Homo sapiens: one gene and its partners. The protein of the gene in region 1 purifies or fractionates together with the protein of each later gene. This does not show direct contact. Each region holds a gene or a part of one and is shown in the gene's direction. Other genes may lie near its edges.

Region 1 (6,988 bases):
GCCACAATGGACTTGCCCCAGGTCAGGCCTGCACTTGCCTTGTGTCAGGGTATCTCCCCAAGTTGCTGGCCTCAGTCCCTACACTGACCTGTTTCCCCAGCTTTATCTCTGGCACCCCAAACTCAGCAGCCCCGACCCCACTTCCCAAGCACCCCCTGTGCCTGGCTCTGTGCCTGTCATGGTGTCCTGGCAGCAGTCTGGGAGAGTATTTCAGTTACCTGCGGTGTCCTGGGAAGGCTGGAGCAGAGGGGTCCACTCACTGATTGCCAAGGTCACAGAACAGGACTTGCATTGTGCACTGGAGGCCCTGTGGTCTTGCATGAGCCTGGTAGGCCTCTCCCCTCCTGCTTCCAGCCCTCCATCTGGGAGGCCAGCCTGCCCAGGGCTGCTCTGCCACTTAGCAGCTGTGTGGCCCTGGAGAGTCCCTAACCTCACTGAACCTCAGTTTCTCCGTTTGTGAAATGGAGATAATACAAAGAGAACTTTCCTTCTCAGGCTGTTGTGATGGGTAAGGAAATAAATGCATGCAAAATCACAGCTGTAGTTACTATGAGGCACACTGTCTTCCTGGCTAGAGGAGATTCTGAAGGTGGGTGGGGCAGCAAGATCACCACGTGTATGAAATGGGGGCAGGCTGGTTGGAGACTGAGGGCACCAGCCCCAAGCACTGCCATCTGCCCTGTGATGGGACTCTCCTGTGGCAGTGGCAACGGTCCCACTGTGGAAGCAACACATGAGCTGAGAGGACTTGCCTGAACTGAGCCACATGTGCCCTCTGGGCCTGGTCACCCCACCACCTGCCCCCAGTGTGACCCATGCAGGGCCTGTTCCTGACCCTGAACGAGACCAGGACTCCCTGGGCTGCATTTCCTATCTGTAAAATTGTAGGAGGGTGGTGGTGGTGGGGGCTCGAACTTGCCCCCTGGGTGGGGTGGGGCATAAATAGTCCCAGAGGATGGCCTGGGAAGGCTGGCTGGGCCTGGCACAGGGGACTTTACTGCTGTCATTATTGTCCTCCTTACAGGAGAGGAGAGCAAGGCCCAGACCGGGGAGGAACCCACACAGCCTCTGTGCTCCAGCCTGCTTGAAAGACAAGGTCTACCTACAACGCAGAGATGCACACATTAAGGACAATGAAACACCCAAGTGTTAGGAACCAGAATAATCAGCCCTAATAGAGGGGAGGCTGATCAGGGAGGGCCTCCTGGAGGAGGAGGCACAACATCAGGGTGCACTGTGATTTCTGGAGACCCAAGGAGTTCTGGTAAATGACAGGTGAGAAAAAGAAAATGTAATAAAATATAATTGAAAACAGACCCTGGTATGTGTGGAGAGAGGGCCGGGAGGAACCTAGGACACCGGGGAACCTGAACTCCCCCAACCAGTGAAGGGAGCTGTGGGCAGCAAGGTTTGATTGGGGTTTTCTTTCTTGTGGAGGTTTCTCAGAGTGATTCAAGTTCCCCCACCCCGCCCACAGATGGTTCTGAGACTTTGGAAAGAAAGAAAAGGAAAAAAGACCCTGCCCGCGCCCCAGCTGGGCATCCCTGGGAGGTCGCGAGGATCCCCGGAGACCCAGACTCGGGCCCGGGGCGCCCCCGGCCAGAGCGGCCCCTGGCTGCCTCCCTACGCCCCGCGACTCCGGTCCGGACGCCGAGGGCCTCGGCCTGCCCCTGTCCCCCGGCCGCCCCCCACCTGCTCCGGCCCGGCGGGGCGGTGCTGGGCCCGCGGGCTCCCCGGCCGCAGTGCAAACGCAGCGCCAGACACGCCCCGCCCGCGCCTCCCCGCCCCCCCGCGCCCGCGGCCCCAAGCGGTTCCCGAGCCCAGGCCCGCGCCGAGCCCAGGTGAGCGCCCGCCCCGGGGACCCTGGTCCCCGGAACCCCGGTCCCCGCCCGCCGCCCCGCCTCTTCGCCCCGGCGCCGGGGGCCAGCGCTTGCGCTCCCAAGTCTCGGACCCCGGCCCGGCACGTTAGGGGCTGGGGGTTGGCAAGCGGGGCCAGAGGCACTGGCCGGGGTCCGAAGCTCACCTCGTCCTTCTCTCGTCCCACAACGGCCCCTTCCCGGCTCGCCGCGGGGCCCCACTGTGTGCCAGTCCCCCTTCTCGGGCTGCAAGGTCTGGCGGGGGCAACGGGACGGAGCCGGCGAGGCTGCTGGCATCGGCTTCCCAGAGAGAGGGAACTGCACGTGCAGAGGCGGGGAGAGTGGACAGAGGCTTGCCCTGAGCTCCGTGGGGGAGGGGAGAGCGCGGAGCCCCCACACTCGAAGGCAGGACTGGGATCAGATGCCACCCCTAGGACGCCTGGAAGCCACTGGGAGTCCGATCTGGGCAGGAGCCCTTGGGATGAGGCAGTGGGGGCAGGTGGCGAGAGGTGGAGGAGTGGGGAGAGGACCCTGCCCAGCCTGCACCCTGGGGGCGCCAGGAGCCCTGGGAGGGTCAGGTGGAGCAGGGGCCGCTCTGTGAGATGGGAGTAATCCAGTCCCGCCTCACAGGTCCTGGGGTCCCTGGGACAGACACAGACTCCTGCTGGGTGGTTAGCACTGGGCTCTGCTAGAACTTTTCTGCAGTGGGCAGCTCATGGGCAAGGAATAGCACTCGGGCGCTCTGCACTCTGGGGGTCCCTCCTGCCCTGCCCCTGGCAAGGACCTTTGCCTTTGAGTGGGGTGACTGGGCTCCAAGCCGATCTAGCACACAGTAGGCCGAAGGCACAGGGGCCCCACCCAGTCTCCTTCCTGGCCCAGGCCCTGGGGGATTCAGGTCCCTGGGTACTCGGGAAGGGACAGCACAGCCTGGGCAGGTCCCCAGTGGCAAGACCAGGTCTGACCTTTTCTGGGATCTGTGGCCCATCAGGTGAGGCCTGAGGTCAGCCAGGAAGGAAGCGGGCAGGGCTGAACCAGGGCTGAAACCAGGACCCAGGAAGGGACAGCCTAGTGCCCAGGGAAGGGGCAGGTGGGGCAGGTGGCAGTTGAGTTTTACAGACCTTCTTTGATGACAAGTGGGGGAAAGAGCCAAGGCACGCCCCAGTGGCTGTGGGAGCCACCGCCTCCTCCCCTGTAATGGGCACCTCGAGGACCGACAGGCGCAGGGGCCAGGCACCAAGGGTCCCTCTCCAACCTGGCCTTTTGTTTCCACCCCTTGCTCTCAGGCACCCACCCACGGCCCTTCCTGGTATCTGGACCAGACCAGGTGGGTCTCAGCCCCACCTCAAGTGAGACTTCAGGAAGAACTTCCAGAGGAAACTGGAGGATGGCAGTGGGATGGACTGTGGGGAGGTCATTTGCAAACAAGGCAGCTTATGCCTGTGCCCTGGGCCTTCCAAAGTCCACCTGTAGGCTGCATCTTCCGGAAGGCCCACCCTGTAGCCTGGAAGGCACCTGGCTACAGTGATCTCTCTGCTGTGCAGGTGTCCCCTCCCCCAGGGCACCTTGCAGGGCCTTAGGGTGATATGGGGGCTTTCTGGGCCCCTGCCCACCTTAAAACTGATCAAGGTGGGAGGGTGGGGTGGGAGGCCACAGGGATGCCCCTGCTGCTTGACCTTGATGGGACCTTGACCCCTTGCTTTCCCCATATGCTGTTGGGCATGACTGCCCACAGGCCTGGTGGGCGTTTGTGAAGGGCTGGAGTCGGGGGTAGGGGGAGCTTATGGCTGCTGGGCACAGGCGTGGCAGGGCTGTGTGCCTGGCTTCCCTTTCCCCTAACCCCATCAGGCCCGGGCTGGCCGCCCACTTCTGTTCACCACAGAGCAGGGTTTCCCTGGGGACCAGTGGACTGGCCCAGCCCCACACCGCCCCCCAGCCCCTCCTGGCCACAGCTTGAGCTGGGAGGAGGGTGGAGGCTGGGCCGCCTCCTGGACCCCTGCCCTCCCTGCCCGGCCTTCCAAGGCCCGGCAGCCTCAGTCCACTGCTGGGCCTGGAACACGGAGCAGTGGCTGCCCTGCGAGGAGGTGGGTGTCCGGAGTGCTAGCCAGGGTGGGGCTGGGCTAGGGGGAGCCTGATGTCACCCCCATTGTAGGAGGGAGAAGACCAAGGATGAGAAGGGCTTTGGCTTCCCCAAGGTGACCCCCTCTTTGAGCCTAGGCATAGTGGTCTCCCGGGAGAATGGAGGGTCCCAGAGCTCTCAGGCTGTGGGATTTGGAGAGGGGAAGGGGGGCACGAGGAGGCAGTAGAAATCAGGGAGGATTTCCTGGGCAAGGCAGCCGCGGGGCTGGACGATGGGCGGCCGAGGTTCGGGCAGAGGAACTCCACTGGAGGAGTGAGGGAGCTGAGCTTGGAGGGCTTCAAAGGGGAGGTGACCTCCAGGGCCCCACGCTCTGGGATCAGGCTCACGCCATGGTTCCCAGCTCAAATGTAAGACTCTTTCCGAAGCTCCCACTGTCTCTCTCCGTCCCTCTGTGTCTCTACCTGCCCACACGCCCCGGTCCTGATGGCTCCAGTCTCCCCTGCAGGTCCTAGAGCAGCTCCAGCAGGATGGCGGCTCCAGCGTCTCTAAGGCCTGCAGGGGGTCCAGCCCCATGGGGGGCGCCCTAGGCCTCCGACAGCTCCCCATCTGTGCTCCTGCCTGCCGGCCATCCTCAGGCCACTCGCCATGGGCGGCTGCTTCTCCAAACCCAAACCAGGTACCTCCTGTCTTCTTGTCTCCATCCTTTCTCCTCCCTCCCCGCCTCCTCCTCCCCCGTCTCCCCCCCCTCCCCCTCTGCACTCGGTAGGCCTCCGAAGTAGGTCAGGCTATCCAAGAACCCGCTCGGAATGTTAATACGCTGCCGCCAGGAGGGGGTAGGGGGCCTGGAGCAGTTCCCCCAGCTGGCCCCTGCTCCAGTGGGTGCCCCTTTTTCTTTGGGGCTTTGAGTGTTGGTGGTGGGAATAACAGCAGGACCCTTCTTGGAAAAGGAAAGTCAGGGTTCCTCCTGTTGCAGGGTTGGGGAAGGGGCTATGCCCCCAGGGCCAGGGAAGGGGGGAGCTGGGGACACGCTCAGCCACTCTGTGACCTAGGGCATGCAAGTTACCCCTCTGAGCCTCTGTTTTTCTCTCTGCAAAAGAGAGGGCCTGGCCACCCTGACCTCTTAGAGTTGCTGTGAGGGTGTAGTGGGCAGATCCTGGCTCTCTTTGCCTCCTCTGATCCCCTGTGTGGTCTCGGGCTGCCTTCTTGGCCTTTCTGGGCACACTTCCCCATTTATACAGGAAATCACCATCCAACCTAGCCTGAGCTACTCCAGCCAGAAGTGGGAGTGTCCTGGGGTGCTAGGGGAGGCCTGGGTCTTTTCTCCACTAAAGACTCATGTCTGCGGAGCTCTCCCTCTGGCCCCCCACTTTCCCTCTTCTCTCCTCACAACACCTGGGGAGGCAGGAGTGTGCAGCTTTGTCACAGGTGGAGAAACTGAGGCTTAGAGAGACCTCAAGAGCGCAGCCAGTGCTCCACTCAACCTGCCAGGCCACGCTGCCCCAGCCAGCTCACCCCAGCCAGCTCACCCCAGCCAGCTCACCCCAGCTCCCCTTACCTGATACCCATCAGCTCCGTTACCTTGGAACTTGTGAGGCTTTTCTCCCTTTCCTGGGTCTAAGGGAGAACTTGGGCGAGGGAGGAGGGCTGTGATGACCCACCAGGCAGAGGGACCCACTTGCCTCTGCTCCAAGAAGCCACTCTTCCTCCCCCGCTCCTGTGCTGTGGACACCTAGGCCTGGGCTGGATCCCTCTCTGCCTCAAAATGTGCCTTGGGCAGATGACGTCCATTGTCTCCCCCTAGCAGTGGGTGGGATGATGCCAGCTGGCCTCATACCAGGCGTCTGTGGCACCGCTGGGCTGGCAGGAGGCCCTGGCAGAAGATGCCACCTGCAGGTTCTTTTAAAGGACCCCAAATGGCTGGCCTGCCTGGGACCCGTGGCCCCAGGACTTCCAGTGTCGGGGGTGGCCACCCTCACCAAAGGCAGTCCTAAGAACTTAGGCAAATCCAGCCCTGCCCCTTTCTGGCTGTGTGGCCTTGGGCAGGTGATTTCCCCTCTCTGAGCCTCTGCATCCTCATTGTAAAGTGGGGCTGTTGTGCCTAGCATGAGGGCCTGGCACACCAGAAGCACTTGCGGAATTTTTTTTTTTTGAGACAGAGTTCACTCCTTCTCCCATGCTGGAGTGCAGTGGCGTGATCTCGGCTCACTGCAAGCTCCGCCTCCCAGGTTCATGCCATTCTCCTGCCTCAGCCTCCCAAGTAGCTGGAACTACAGGCGCCCGCCACCACGCCCAGCTATTTTTTTGTATTTTTAGTAGAGACGGGGTTTCACCGTGTTAGCCAGGATGGTCTCTATCTCCTGACCTTGTGATCCGCCCATCTCGGCCTCCCAAGGAATATTATTTGTTATCCCTTTTCTGAGCTGGGCTCTGTGCTGCCAGGCCTCCCCTGTGGGGCTGTAGCCAGAGGCTCAGGCCCCAGGTGCCCATGCTGGGCAGGTCAGGCATGAGGCTCAGGGAATTTCCAGATATGGGAGTGACAGCATTTGGGGCCTGAGGGTTCAGCTGGGGTCTTAAGGGGCCACAAAGAGACTAGATCAAGCAGAAGACCTCTGTGCAAATCCTTCACTTTCTATCTTGCTCCACTCGATTCTGTGGCTCCGTGTGCATCAGCACCTGCTTCCTGGGTTCCCTCTGTGCTCCTGTGTGTCCTGTCTGAGTAGTTGATAAGAAGGTATCAGACCAGTCCCTCACCTAGCTCAGAGCTAGGAGGAAGTGCAGCTCTCTTAGCATCTGTTCACCTGCCTTTTATTAGGCCATAACTGATACCTAAAGGCTTTCCATCCTCACCATGGCTGCTAGGAGGCTCAGAGCTAACTGGTAAAACACTGCTGCCCAACTCCATCTATTGAGCTTCTACTCTGGGTTACATACAGTATTTCCTTCAGCATTCACTGTCACCAACGAGGTAGGCATTTGCTGTTCTCTCTGTTTTATTTTCATTTTTTGAGATGGGGTCTCATTCTGTTGCCCAGGTTGGAGTAAAGTCGCATAATCA
Region 2 (6,997 bases), on another chromosome or scaffold:
CACTTTTACACTGTTGGTGGGACTGTAAGCTAGTTCAACCATTGTGGAAGTCAGTGTGGCGATTCCTCAGGGATCCAGAACTAGAAATACCATTTGACCCAGCCATCCCATTACTGGGTATATACCCAAAGGACTATAAATCATGCTGCTATAAAGACACATGCACACATATGTTTATTGCGGCATTATTCACAATAGCAAAGACTTGGAACCAACCCAAATGTCCAACAATGATAGACTGGATTAAGATAATGTGGCACATATACACCATGAATACTATGCAGCCATAAAAAATGATGAGTTCATGTCCTTTGTAGGGACATGGATGAAATTGGAAATCATCATTCTCAGTAAACTATCACAAGAACAAAAAACCAAATACCGCATATTCTCACTCATAGGTGGGAATTGAACAATGAGAACACATGAACACAGGAAGGGGAACATCACACTCTGGAGACTGTTGTGGGGTGGGGGCAGGGGGGAGGGATAGCATTGGGAGATATACCTAATGCTAGATGACGAGTTAGTGGGTGCAGTGCACCAGCATAGCATATGTATACATATGTAACTAACCTGCACATTGTGCACATGTACCCTAAAACTTAAAGTATAATAATAATAATAATAATAATAAAGAAAAAAAAGAAGAATAGATAAGTAGATGGAGGAACAAATGCAAAAAAGTATACTTTAAAAGAAATGCATTGGCTAATTCATACATAATGTTATCGTGTGAATTATTATGTTGTTTTCAAACTAATTCTGCACTGTGTAAAAAGTTATATATTAGGTTGACGCAAGAGTAGCGGTTTTCGCCATTGAAAGGGAGAGATAGCACCATACAGCCACCTTAGTCTACCTTTTACAATGATCCCAAAAACTCATGGAAACATTTTCAAATGCATAAATTGAAGTTTGCTGCTATTATTAATAGGGACATTTACAAATTCATAAACAATTTAAAAATTGTTTTTAAATTGTTAAAAGAAGGATTGGTGTGTTTCGAAATATTAAAAATTAGTGACTAAAATGACACAATATGTACATGAGAATATACATACCTATAGATTATTAGTCATTTCAGCACCCAGAACTCTGCATAACGTATGGAATATATATTTGCATATTTTACAATCATTGTCAATGGAAAGGTGAATTGAAGGTAAACTGCCCCAAATATTTCACAGGCTTCCTAATAGAAAGAATAATAGATTATATCCATAACATGTTTCAATTTTCAAAGAAAATGGATAACCTATAATGAAATCTTTCCATCATAGACTTTAATCAGTCACCACCATGAGCAAATACTAGTAGCTAAGTAAGCAGCCCTTAAAAGACCTGGAGAGAAACAGAGGACATTTGCATAAAGAAAACCTGGAAAACCTGTCCAAGAACAGGAGAACGTAGAGACATTGATACTGTGAACATAGATGAAAACTGGATTTAGTCAAGAAGACATTTCAGCCTCTATGTGGGATGATACGTGGTAACAGGATTTTAATTTTGAAAGACAAGGTCCTCAGAGCTTGATGCTGTTACATGAAGACAGATCTTGGGGAAGTGGTGACAAAATGCCCTTGTGGTTTAGCTCAGTGCAGAGCACACTGCAAATCTTCTTTACAGAAAGGTGCCAAAACAGAAGAGTATATTTTCCTTTTGGGTCTTTCAAATCTAGTATTTGTAAATCATGGTGAATAGTAATTTGAATACTCAGAATCTATTTATCACTACATTCAAACAGTCCATTAAGCTCCACCTCTAGTAGAGGAATGTGTCTACATACATTATTTGGAATTCCTCTGTAGAGAAGTTTTGTCCTTTCCCCCACCCCCACTTATTTATTTATAAGTCACTGCTTCTCTGCCCTCTTACGAACAGAGCTTGAAAATATTTGCGTTTATCAAAATCCTGTTTGAGTAGGCAGAATAACGGCCCACCAAAGATGTCCATGTCCTATTCCCCAGAACTTGTAAATACTGATGCTACATGACAAAAGAGACTTTGCAGATATAATTATATCACAGTATTTAATTAGGGAGTTTATCCTGTATTATCTAGTTTGGCCCAACTTAATCAAATGAGTCCTTAACAGCAGAGAATTTTCTCTGGATGAAAGTGGAAAACAGATGGAGTAGAAATGAAAATCAGAGAGATTCCAATTGTAAGAAGAATTCAATGCATCATTGCTGGCTCTCAGATACAGGAACCTACAAACCTGAGAGGGCCTTTAGGGGTTTATTAACAGCCAGCCAAAAGCAGGTAGCTCAGTCCTATAATTGCAAGGAACTGAATCCTGCCAAAAGCCTAAATGAGCTTAGAGGTAAATTCTTCCTAGAGCCTTGTAATGAAAACCCAGCCATCAAAACTTTATGAAATCCAGAGCAAGAAACCAGCAGAGCCAACCTGAATCTCTGACCTACAGAATTGTTTTTGAACACAAAATTGTGTTATTTCAAGTAGCTAAATTTGTGACAACTTGCTTCAGTAGCAAGAGAAAATTAACACATATTTATACACATATATCTGTAATTATTTTCCATATCAACCTATGTGTATATTGAACTTAATATGAGTTCATACCGATATCTCAGACTCTTAATCCAGCACCACAGAGTTCATTCTGCCCTTGCTTATTTGTAATTTATTTTCCTGACGGTGAGAAACTTTTAATTATCTTCCATTATTTGTTTATCTCTAATAACACAAATAGTTTAAGAATTATTCACCTATAAGCTTGTGATATTCAAACTTACCAACTAGAGTATTATATTTATGGACAGCTGTTTTTGTCTTTAGTTTTACAAACTGAAAACCTCTTTTGCAAAGTTACTTAAGTCATTTCCTTTTTTTGTCCACATCACCTGTAGTAAAATTTCCACATCACATGTAGTAAAATTTCCTATATATTACGATACAGTTAGGCTTATCTGTCAGAGGCTACATTATATAATACGATTCCCTAACACTCTGGATCATATTTTTTATTTGCATTCATTAAAGTTTACTCTCTACAACGTACGATTCTATGAATTTTGACAAGTGCATAGAATGTTGTATCCACCACTCCAGTACCTCATAGAAAAGTTTACCACACTAAAAATCCTCCTGTGTATCCCCATTATAGTTGACCACGCTCTCTTAACCTGTAGCAACCACTGATATGTTTTCCATCCCTATAGTTTTGCCTTTTATCAAATGTCATACAAATGGAATTATACAATAACTACAAAATTTTTTTGCCTGGCGTCTTTCAGTTAGTAAGGCACATTTAAGTTTTATCCAGGGCTTTTGTGTAAGTAAATAGCTTGTTTCTTTTCTTTTTTTAAAAAATAATATTCCATTGCATGGATATATCACAGTTTATTTATTTATTACTTGAAGAATATACAATTTTGGTAATTATTAATAAAACTGCTCTAAACGTTTGTTTACAGAAGTTTGAGAGAATACAGGTTTTTGATGTCCTTGGATGAATATCTAGAAATAGGATTGATGACTTGTATGGTAAGTCTATGCATATTTCTAAGAAATTGCCAAGCTGTTTCCCAAAATGTCTGTAGCATATTTCATTCCTGGGAGCAACAAATGAGAGTTTCTGTTACTATATATTTTAACACCATTTAAGTTTGCTTTTAAATGCTGTTGACTCGATGTTCAACATTGAGGAACCGATAAACTGTTTTTTAAAGTGGCTGCACCATTAGACATTCCTATCAGCAATAAATGAGGATTCCAATTTGTCCACTTCTTTCTCAACACTTGTTTTTATTTTTTATTTTAGCCATCTTAATAGGAGATGCCTCAAATATATTTCTGTCAAAGCCTTCATTTTACATATTTAGTTCACTCAACTTATGGAGTAGAATGAAAAAAACTGTAAAGCCAATTTTCATTACTAAACCAACTAGCCACATACATTTGCTTTCTCCAAAAATAGAATATCTTACTCACTTTCAATTCTAATATATGTTTTCATCTTCATGAAAACCATGCATTTATTTTTCAGCTCAATTTCTAAGTTGTACAGGTAGGAAAGCAAACAGAGAGGAGACAAAAAATAAGGAGCCTCATCATAACATTGTAGTCTGAAAGAAATGTCACCATTACTTTCAGCACTTGTTACTGATACTCTCTTTGCTATGATCTTATGGGATTCTCCTGCAGAAGTGACCAAACATTCTTTCATGGTAGTCTGAAAATGGAAGAAGCAAAGTAATGAAAATATGACAGCATTCCCACCACGTCCCAGAATAGATCTAAAGATGAAGACTAACAACAAGCCACATCCTCAAAGAAATATTTATCAAGACAAGGAAAAAACAGAACTATACTATCCTGACTTGAATAAGCAAGGTTTCATATGAAAATCATTATTTCAAATATTCCTTTTATTTGGCACTGCAGAGGTTTTTACATATCAAAATGGTTAAGATTTGACATGAATGAGGTGTATGTAGGTTTGCGGGGGTGGGGGTGGAGTTCTTTTTGTTTTGTTTTTAATAATAAAAGCAACTGTTAACCGAGCTGTGGGGTGGGGGCAAAAAGAGCCAGAAGGCGGCGCACACCTCAGGACTATTCTTGTTTTTTTAGAACCATTCTTATTCTGGGGTTTCTTCACCTACCCAAGTCTCGCCTGAAGCCAGGTACAGCTCTATTCCACTACATGACCCTCTGCCCAGGAAGTTGGAATCTTCACCTAGCAACACAGTTCAGATCGAGATTGACAGGACCATGAGCCAATCACAAAGCTAGATTTGCTTTCCAGTCTAACAGTGGCCGTTGTGCTGGAGACAGTGAGGAGAAGAAAGGGGCGGGACAAGGGCAAAGGCGTTAGAAGTCACCACCGACCCAGCCCCTCAACAGCAAGTTGGTTCTTCAGCATTAAGATCCAGGTGTCAGCCTATGTCTTTATATTGTCAAGATGTCTCTTTCTAAGAAGTTGACTTTAGACAAACTGGATGTTAGAGGGAAGCGAGTCATCATGAGAGTAGACTTCAATGTTCCCATGAAGAAGAACCAGATTACAAACAACCAGAGGATCAAGGCTTCCATCCCAAGCATCAAGTACTGCCTGGACAATGGAGCCAAGGCAGTAGTTCTTATGAGTCATCTAGGTCGGCCTGATGGTGTTCCCATGCCTGACAAATATTCCTTAGCACCTGTTGCTGTTGAGCTCAAATCCTTGCTGGGCAAGGATGTTCTGTTCCTGAAGGACTGTGTAGGCGCAGAAGTGGAGAAAGCCTGTGCCAACCCAGCTCCTGGTTCAGTCATCCTGCTGGAGAACCTGCGCTTTCATGTGGAGGAAGAAGGGAAGGGCCAAGATCCCTCTGGAAAGAAGATTAAAGCTGAGCCAGATAAAATAGAAGCCTTCCGAGCATCACTTTCCAAGCTAGGGGACGTCTATGTCAATGATGCTTTTGGCACTGCACACCGCGCTCATAGTTCCATGGTGGGAGTGAATCTGCCCCATAAAGCATCCGGATTCTTGATGAAGAAGGAACTAGATTACTTTGCTAAAGCCTTGGAAAACCCAGTGAGACCCTTTCTGGCTATACTTGGTGGAGCCAAAGTGGCAGACAAGATCCAACTTATCAAAAATATGCTGGACAAAGTCAATGAGATGATTATTGGTGGTGGAATGGCTTATACCTTCCTTAAGGTACTCAACAACATGGAGATTGGTGCTTCCCTGTTTGATGAAGAGGGAGCCAAGATCGTTAAAGATATCATGGCCAAAGCACAAAAGAATGGTGTAAGGATTACTTTTCCTGTTGATTTTGTTACTGGGGACAAGTTTGACGAGAACGCTCAGGTTGGAAAAGCCACTGTAGCATCTGGCATATCTCCTGGCTGGATGGGTTTGGACTGTGGTCCTGAGAGCAACAAGAATCATGCTCAAGTTGTGGCTCAAGCAAGGCTAATTGTTTGGAATGGGCCGTTAGGAGTATTTGAATGGGATGCCTTTGCTAAGGGAACCAAAGCCCTCATGGATGAAATTGTGAAAGCCACTTCCAAGGGCTGCATCACTGTTATAGGGGGTGGAGACACTGCTACTTGCTGTGCCAAATGGAACACTGAAGATAAAGTCAGCCATGTCAGCACTGGAGGCGGTGCCAGTCTAGAGCTTCTGGAAGGTAAAATCCTTCCTGGAGTAGAGGCCCTCAGCAACATGTAGTTAATATAGTGTTACTTCCTTCTGTTTTCTGTCCATGGCCCTTAAGTCAGCTTAATGCTTTTACATCTCGATGTGACTTTTGTTAAAATCTACTCCTAGATCAAGACCTATGTAATGGACAAGCAGCAGGCCATCAGGAACTCTTAATATCAGCACAGCAATTCATTTTAGTTTGGTCACGCATTTGCCTGTTCAAGTTCTCATTTGAACTTCACCATTGTGCTATCTAGGGAGGACATATTCTTAAGTTGCCTATTAAAGAAAGTGAGCTGAAGAAACTGAATCTTTTTATTTTAGTCCAACTTTGCTATTGTTTCATAATTTGAAACCCAAAAGATAAAACTTAATTTGTTGGGAAAGGGTGGAATGAAAGTTGACAAACAAACAATAAATATGCCCAAATAAACTGAGAAAAATAATTACATATAAAGAACTCATGGGTACCATTAAAGTTCTGCTAAGGGGAAATGTTATACTAAATAGGACCAAAAAAAAGAGAAATGAAAGACACTTATTAAACCCAAGGAATTTTTAAAAAGAAAAGAAATTAAACTCAAGGTAAGAATTATGTTTGTGTGCATATCAATGCACAAGATTACACACAAATGCCAGCTAGAAAAAGAGCTACAAGTTAAACCCAAGTTGTAAATAAGTAATTGTTTTATTTTTAAGGCAGGCATTATTTAATAAATAGATAATATAACTGGTAAGTTCTAAAACTTGGTTTTTGAGATAAATAAAATATATATACATAGCTGGTTTAATAATGGGAAAATAGAGATAAAAATTCTCTATTAGAAAACAGAAGATAAAATG
Region 3 (7,111 bases), on another chromosome or scaffold:
CAGCTAATTTTTGTATTTTTAGTAGAGATGGGGTTTCACCATGTTTGCCAGGCTGGTCTCGAACTTCTGACCTTAGGTGATATGCTTGCCTCGGCCTCCCAAAGTGCTGGGATTACAGGTGTAAGCCAGTGTAAAGAGTTAAATGTACTCTTTAACTTTTTGGTCCACCCAAGCGTGGAAGTGGCAAACCACTATAAAACTTTCATGAATTACAAAAAACATGGGGGAAGAAGGGATTGTCAGTTTTAATTAGTGAGACTATATTCAGACAAGTATAATTTTATTATTTTCAAACAATGTTTGGCAATTAGAACCAGGCTAATAGAGGATTGCCTAAAGACATCTTTATATAACTTACTTTAACACACGATTTGCAATTAGAATTAGGGAGTAGGTCTTTATAAAGAGCTTGAAGGAGCCTGGAAAGACTTTCTACATAGATAAAAATTAACCTCAGTCCAGCTTCCTATATGAATTATTAGAAATAGTCCAGATTACTGAAGATTTCTGTTCTGCTATGGGTGGCAGTGGTACAAAAAGGTGACCTGGAGGATGATTTTTTTTTTTTTTTTGAGATGGAGTTTTGCTCTTGTCACCCAGGCTGGAGTGCAATAGTACGATCTTGGCGCACTGCAACCTCCACCTCCCGGGTTCAAGCAATTCTCCTGCCTCAGCCTCCCAAGTAGCTGGGATTACAGGCGTGCATCACCACGCCCAGCTAATTTTGTATTTTTAATAGAGACAGGATTTTACCGTGTTGGTTAGGCTGGTCTCAAACTCCTGACCTGAGGTGATCCCCACCTCTGCATCCCAAAGTGCTGGGATTACAGGCGTGTGCCACCATACCTGGCTAATTTTGTATTTTTAGTAGAGATGGGGTTTTACCATGTTGGTCAGGCTGGTCTTGAACTCCTGACCTCAGGTGATCCCCTGGCCTCGGCCTCCCAAAGTGCTGGGATTACAGGCCATGGTGCCCGGCCTGGAGGATGAATTTCCTAGGAGCTTTCACCGTTGGATCTGAGGTTAAGATGCTCAAGGATCTTTAATACTTCCCTCATTTTGCTGTGTTTTTGCCTTCTGTTACTTTCTTCTGAAGGGCTTTGGGGACATTGAGGACAGGCCAAATTGTTGAAGAATTATTTAGAACCCACTGTCTTCTCGCTGTCCTTTTGATGTCCGGCTTCTCCAGTTATGAAATACATTTGGTATTGGTCATGATCTCTTACTGAGCTAATGTTATGGTCCATTGTTGGAGACAGAGTCAAATAAAATTCGTGTTGAACTTTGGTAACAAAACCAAATCTGTCCCCTTGCTTAACCAACATTGACTTACAGAGAGCATATACTTCCTAGAAAAATAGATGTTTCTCATAGCTTTCCGTTAAGAGAGCTTTTCCCTCAATATTCACTGGAAGCAGCTACTAAGAAGATTTATATAGGAACCAAAATAAACATAGGTGAGTATGTTTTTGTTGGCAGATACATGACTAAATTAGTCCCTGGGGTAGACATGAAATAGGGTTAAGACCTTTTTTTTTTTTTTTTTTTTTTTTGAGACCAATTCTCGCTCTGTCCCCCAGGCTGAAGTGCAGTGGCGCGATCTCGGCTCACTGCAAGCTCTGCCTCCCAGGTTCACGCCATTCTCTTGCCTCAGCTTCCGGAGTAGCTGGGACTACAGTAGGCGCCCGCCACCACGCCTGGCTAATTTTTTTGTATTTTTAGTAGAGACGGGGTTTCACCATGTTAGCCAGGATGGTCTCCATCTCCTGACCTTGTGATCCGCCCGCCTCGGCCTCCCAAAGTGCTGGGATTACAGGCGTGAGCCACCGTCCCCGGCCTAAGACGTTTTTAAGAGTTCTTTTTCTTAGAAAGATTGAAGATCTGGTATTGGACAAAGATGAAAACTTTGGAATTCTTTTAACAAAGAACATAATCTGTCTTCTACCATCCCCAATTTAGGGGGTAAAAAAAGGAAGTTCTTCTTTGGGCACTATGTTGTTGTATCTGACTTCATATGTCTGTTGTTGAAATTGAGTTGGGAACTTCCCCTTTGTCAGCTGTGTGGTATCAGTGGGAAAATGCAGAAACATTATGACTTGCAATAAGTTTTTCTTATGGAAAATTTAGGGATAACTCAAAGCTGCCCTTTCTGAAATTTGATCTGTTATCAACTGTATAAATCTAAATGGAAAAATAGATTAACGACAGTCTTTGCCTGAGGGACCTCCTCAAATCAAGAACTACTGTTTGAAATGATCAAGTGTCTGCTAAGACTTGCATCTGAATGGGTGATGTCACCCTTTGGCCCAGAACAAATTTTTTCCAGGGTTGTCTAAATATAGGACACATACTTTGCCATCTTTGTTTGTTAGTGCAAATGTACGTTATACATCTATACTAGTTAAAATCACTTTATTTTAACAGAACCAAGTTCTACTCCAAGTTCAAGAAATTGATTGTTGTTTTCTTTGAAAACATGTTAATGACGTTTTAAAAATACGCTTATTCAAAAATCAAACAATAGGGCCAGGTGTGGTGGCTCATGCCTGTCATCCCAGTGCTTTGGGAAGCCAAGGTGGAGGATCGCTTGAGGCCAAGAATTCAAGATCAACCTGGGGAACATAGCAAGACCCTATCTCGATGAAATAAAAAATGAGCTAGACATGGTGGTGCATGCGTATAGTTCCAGCTACTTGGGAGGCTGAGATGGGAGAATTGCTTCAGCCCAGAGAGCTGTGATCGCACTACTGTACTCCAGCCTGGGCAACAGAATGAGACTCTGTCTAAAAATATACATATATATATATCTCTCTCTTATATGTATATATTTATATATATCACATATATAAATATCAAAAGATATCAAATATATAGATATATAAATATCAAATATATAGAGATATATAAATATCAAATACAGATATATAATATCAAATACATAGAGATATATAAATCAAATATATATATAAATAAAATATATATATATATCAAACAATAAGGTATATAAGGTAGAGTGAAAGCCCCTGGTCACCTTATTTCCCAGAGCTGTCACCACTGATAGTTTAATGAACTCACTTTTTAATATGTGTGTGTGTTTAACATCGCTGGGATCTTACTGTACCTGGGTGCATTTGTTACCATGTATGTTTCGCTGACTCTTATTGTTGTGTGCTGGAACTTTCTGGGGTGATAGTAATCCAGTTGGGCAGTCATCAACACATGGAGCACTTGCATGTGACAAGTGTGACTGAGCTGAATGTTTTTATTTTATTTGAATTAATTTAAATTTAAATAGCTCCATGTGACTAGTGGCTATCATACTGGACAGCTCAGATCATATTCAGTCTTTGAATTTTGTTTATAAGCTTTCTTGGTACTCAAAAATTTCTGTATTTTATTTCCTGTCTTTGGTAGAATATGTCTAGTTTTCATTCTTTTTTTCTTCTGTGGATTATCTGTACACTTTTTTTTTTTTTTTTTTTTTGAGACAAGGTCTCACTCTGTCATCTGGGCTGGAGTGCAGTGGCACAATCTCAGCTCACTACAGCCTTGACCTCCTGGACTCAAGTGATCCTCCCACCTCAGCCTCTCAAGTAGCTAGGACTACAGGCACATGCCACCACACCTGGCTAATTTTTGTATTTTTGTAGAGACAGGGTCTCACTATGTTGTCTAGGCTGGTCTCGAACTCCTGAACTCAAGCAGTTCACCCACCTCCGTCTCCCAAAGTGTTGGGACTACAGGCGTGAGCCACCGTGCCCGGCGATCTGTACATTTTGAACAAGTATGTTTTCATCTATATTTCTTTATCCATATCAAAAAATTAACCACTATTTAAAATATTCTACCATCTCACAAGAAAAATCATGTAGGATATTTTGACTTCTTTTCATTTCCTAGGTTTAATTGAAATAACCTGGAATTGTAATTCTTTTATTTTTGCCCTTGTGTCACTAGAGACTTTTTTCTTAACTATTACATGTTTCACATTCCTGTTAACAAAAACATTTTAGACTTTCCTGACAGCTTTATTGTTTTTATGGGTTTCCATCGTTCTTTATAAAACACATCCTCCCGGCCAGGCGTGGTGGCTCGCACCTGTAATCCCAGCACTTTGGGAGGCCGGGGTGGGCGGATCACCTGAGGTCAGGAGTTCGAGACCAGCCTGGACAACATGGTGAAACCCCATCTCTACTAAAAATACAAAAAAACATTAGCCAGGTGTGGTGGCGGGCGTATGTAATCTCAGCTACTCGGGAGGCTGAGGCAGGCAGGAGAATCACTTGAACCCAGGAGGTGGAGGTTGCAGTGAGTCGAGATTGCACCATTGCACTCCAGCCTGGGCGACAGAGCAAGACTCTGTCTCAAAAAAATAAAAGTAAAAAATAAAACACATCCTGTCTTTTTCTTCTTTAACAGCATTCTCACATGATTTTTTTTCTTAGAGTGCGTGGATGATGTATTTTGAGTTCTTGCATGTCTGAAAATGCCATTCTTTTCCCCTCCCACATAATACATAGCCTGGGTGTGCATGTGACTCTATGATAACAATCGTTTTCCTTGAAACTCCATAAACGTTTTAATATCTTCCAGTATTTACTGGTACAGATGTTGTTTTCTTTGTGTTTTTTTTTTTTTTTTTTTTTTTTTTTTTGATTTTTGAGGCAGAGTCTCGCTCTGTCACCCAGGCCAGGCTGGTCTCGAACTCCTGACCTTGACCTCAGGTGATCCACCTGACTCGGTTCCCCAAAGTGCTGGGACTACAGGTGTGAGCCACTGTGCCTGGCCAGATGCTGTTTTCTCTGCTTCTCTGTCTTTTATAGGTAATCTTATTCTTTTTGTCTGTTTTAACTTGTTTTCAGTCTAGAAGCTTCTGGCATTTTTTCCCTGTTGTTCTATTACCAAAGGGTTTCCATGTCCTTTCACATGCTGGGATCGCCTGTCCTTTATTTTTTATTTTTTGCAATGGAGTCTTACTCTGTTGCCCAGGCTGGAGTGCAGTGTCGTCATCTTTGCTCACTGCAACGTCCACCTCCCAGGTTCAAGCGATTCTCCTGCCTCAGCCTCCCAAGTAGGCAGGATTATAGACGCACACTACCATGCCTAGCTAATTTTTGTATTTTTAGTAGAGACGGGGTTTCACCACGTTGGCCGGCTGGTCTCGAACTCCTGACCTCAAGGAATCTCCCCACCTCAGCCTCCCAAAGTGCTGGGATTACAGGTGTGAGCCACTGCACCTGGCACCTTTCCTTTACTATCTAAACAAAATGGCCTGAGCTGATACATGTTCATGGGGGTTTCTTGGGGTCTTAAGTTTTCATGGTCCTCAGGCACACCCACACTGCAGCCAACTTGCCCCATCACCGGGCTCCTTGTGCCTGTGTGTCCTTAGGGTGCTCTTTTTCTTCAACATTTGACCTTGGGTGGAACACGGTTATCTTCAGTTCTGTGTCTCTCACCACCCTCCTCCCAGGAATCACTAAAATCCAGCTATTGTGCACAGCATTTGCTGAAGCGTTTGTGGCTAATGGGGAGGGAGGGAGGTCTGATTACAGAGTAGCGCAGAAAACAACTTTGAATTCAGTGTCAGACATCATTGTTCACCAAGAGGAATTTGTTACTGCTCACGCCTTTCTGTGGGTCATGGCTTCCTCTGCTTCTGAGAGTGTCTCCTGATCTTTCTTCTCCTCTTCTCTAAGTTCAAGGTCAGCCCAAATGTCCTTTCTTTCATGAAGCCTTCCGCAGCCACTATGACCAAAGGCGCTGACCCCTGCCGGAAGCCCTGTAGCTCTTAGTGAGTGTATCTTTCCCGTGACATCTTTCCCAGTTGCTCTCACCTCATCTCCCCAGCCCTCTGCTCGGGAAGACCCTCATTCTCCTGCCCCAAGCTGTGGCTCCTAGAGGTGAGTTCCTTGTCCACAATCACAAATGGGAGATGTGGGTCTTTGCGTCTGTTGCTTAATGTGTGTGTAGCATCTACCAACCAGCTAGAGTAAAAGGTTTTATTTTGCTGGGCGCAGTGGCTCACGCCTGTAATCCCAGCACTTTGGGAGGCCGAGGCGGGTGGATCACCTGAGGTCAGTAGTTCGAGAGCAGCCTGGGCTACATGGTGAAACCCCATCTCTACTGAAAATACAAAAATCAGTCTGGCACGATGGCGGGCACCTGTAATCCCAGCTAATCGGGAGGCTGAGGCAGAATTGCTTGAACCCGAGAGATGGAGATCACTTTATAAGCACATACTGCAGTGAGCCGAGATTGTGCCACTGTACTCCAGTGAGCCTGGGCGACAGTGAGACTCTGTCTCAATAAATAAATAAATAAATAAATAAATAAATATTTTAAGGAGGTTTTATTTAAATATACAATAGGTTATCTGAAAATAAAGTATGGCTGGACTTTATTAGAATTAAACATTATAGAAAGTCAAGTACCCAAGGTCCATCTGTCTTTCTAACCTCTCTCCCTTTCTGTCTCAGTCTCTGTCAACTAGACTGCCCCAAGCATCTGTTCCTTAGTTCAGATTCTCCAGAAAGGATCTCACTGGTTTCTGGCCAAGAAAGGGATTATCCAGGCATGATCCAGTCCACTGTGATGGAGAAGGGAAAGGGAGGGGTAGAAGAGAATTGTGTGGTACAACATGGCCACTGAGGGCCACACCTTTGGTGAGACCTGTGGGCAAAGGGAGTTTTCAGGGAAGGACATAGTGAACAATGCTGGCACCTTGCTGGGACTGAATTGTATCTCCCTGCCAATTCATATGTTGAAGCCTAAATCCCCAACGTGATGGTGTCTGGAGGTGGCACCTTTGGGGGGTAAATAGCTTACAAGGGTGGAGTCCCCATGAATCGGATCAGTGTATGCTTATAAAGAGATAGAGTCCAGTGCTTTGTTGCTCTGCCAAGAATAAGGCCCTCACCAAAAACCTGACCCTGCTGGCACCCTGATCTTGGTGGACTTCCAGCCTCCAGAACTGTAAGAAATAAATGTCTTTTCTTTAAGTAATCAGTCTATCGTATTCTGTAATAGCAGGCTGAACTAAGACACACCTCAAAACATGTTTGCAGAACACAGCGTGTCTGCCTGTCTACTCACAGGTAGATTGTGTGCA

The links.
Region 2: the proteins of AIFM3 (region 1) and PGK2 purify together in Homo sapiens (affinity purification with mass spectrometry; 2 studies listed by BioGRID and IntAct, with this or other methods). This does not show direct contact.
Region 3: the proteins of AIFM3 (region 1) and NMT2 purify together in Homo sapiens (affinity purification with mass spectrometry; 2 studies listed by BioGRID and IntAct, with this or other methods). This does not show direct contact.

Annotation. Positions count from the first base shown.
Region 1 is NC_000022.11:20,963,367-20,970,354, forward strand, and holds the start of AIFM3 (apoptosis-inducing factor 3), read left to right. Parts: upstream 1-3,888; 5' UTR 3,889-3,937; intron 3,938-4,438; 5' UTR 4,439-4,578; coding exon 4,579-4,609; intron 4,610-6,988. UniProt on the Homo sapiens protein: Induces apoptosis through a caspase dependent pathway. Reduces mitochondrial membrane potential.
Region 2 is NC_000006.12:49,785,118-49,792,114, reverse strand, and holds PGK2 (phosphoglycerate kinase 2), read left to right. Parts: upstream 1-4,829; 5' UTR 4,830-4,927; coding exon 4,928-6,181; 3' UTR 6,182-6,455; downstream 6,456-6,997. UniProt on the Homo sapiens protein: Essential for sperm motility and male fertility. Not required for the completion of spermatogenesis.
Region 3 is NC_000010.11:15,158,625-15,165,735, reverse strand, and holds part of NMT2 (glycylpeptide N-tetradecanoyltransferase 2), read left to right. Parts: intron 1-5,699; exon of another isoform or gene 5,700-5,903; intron 5,904-7,111.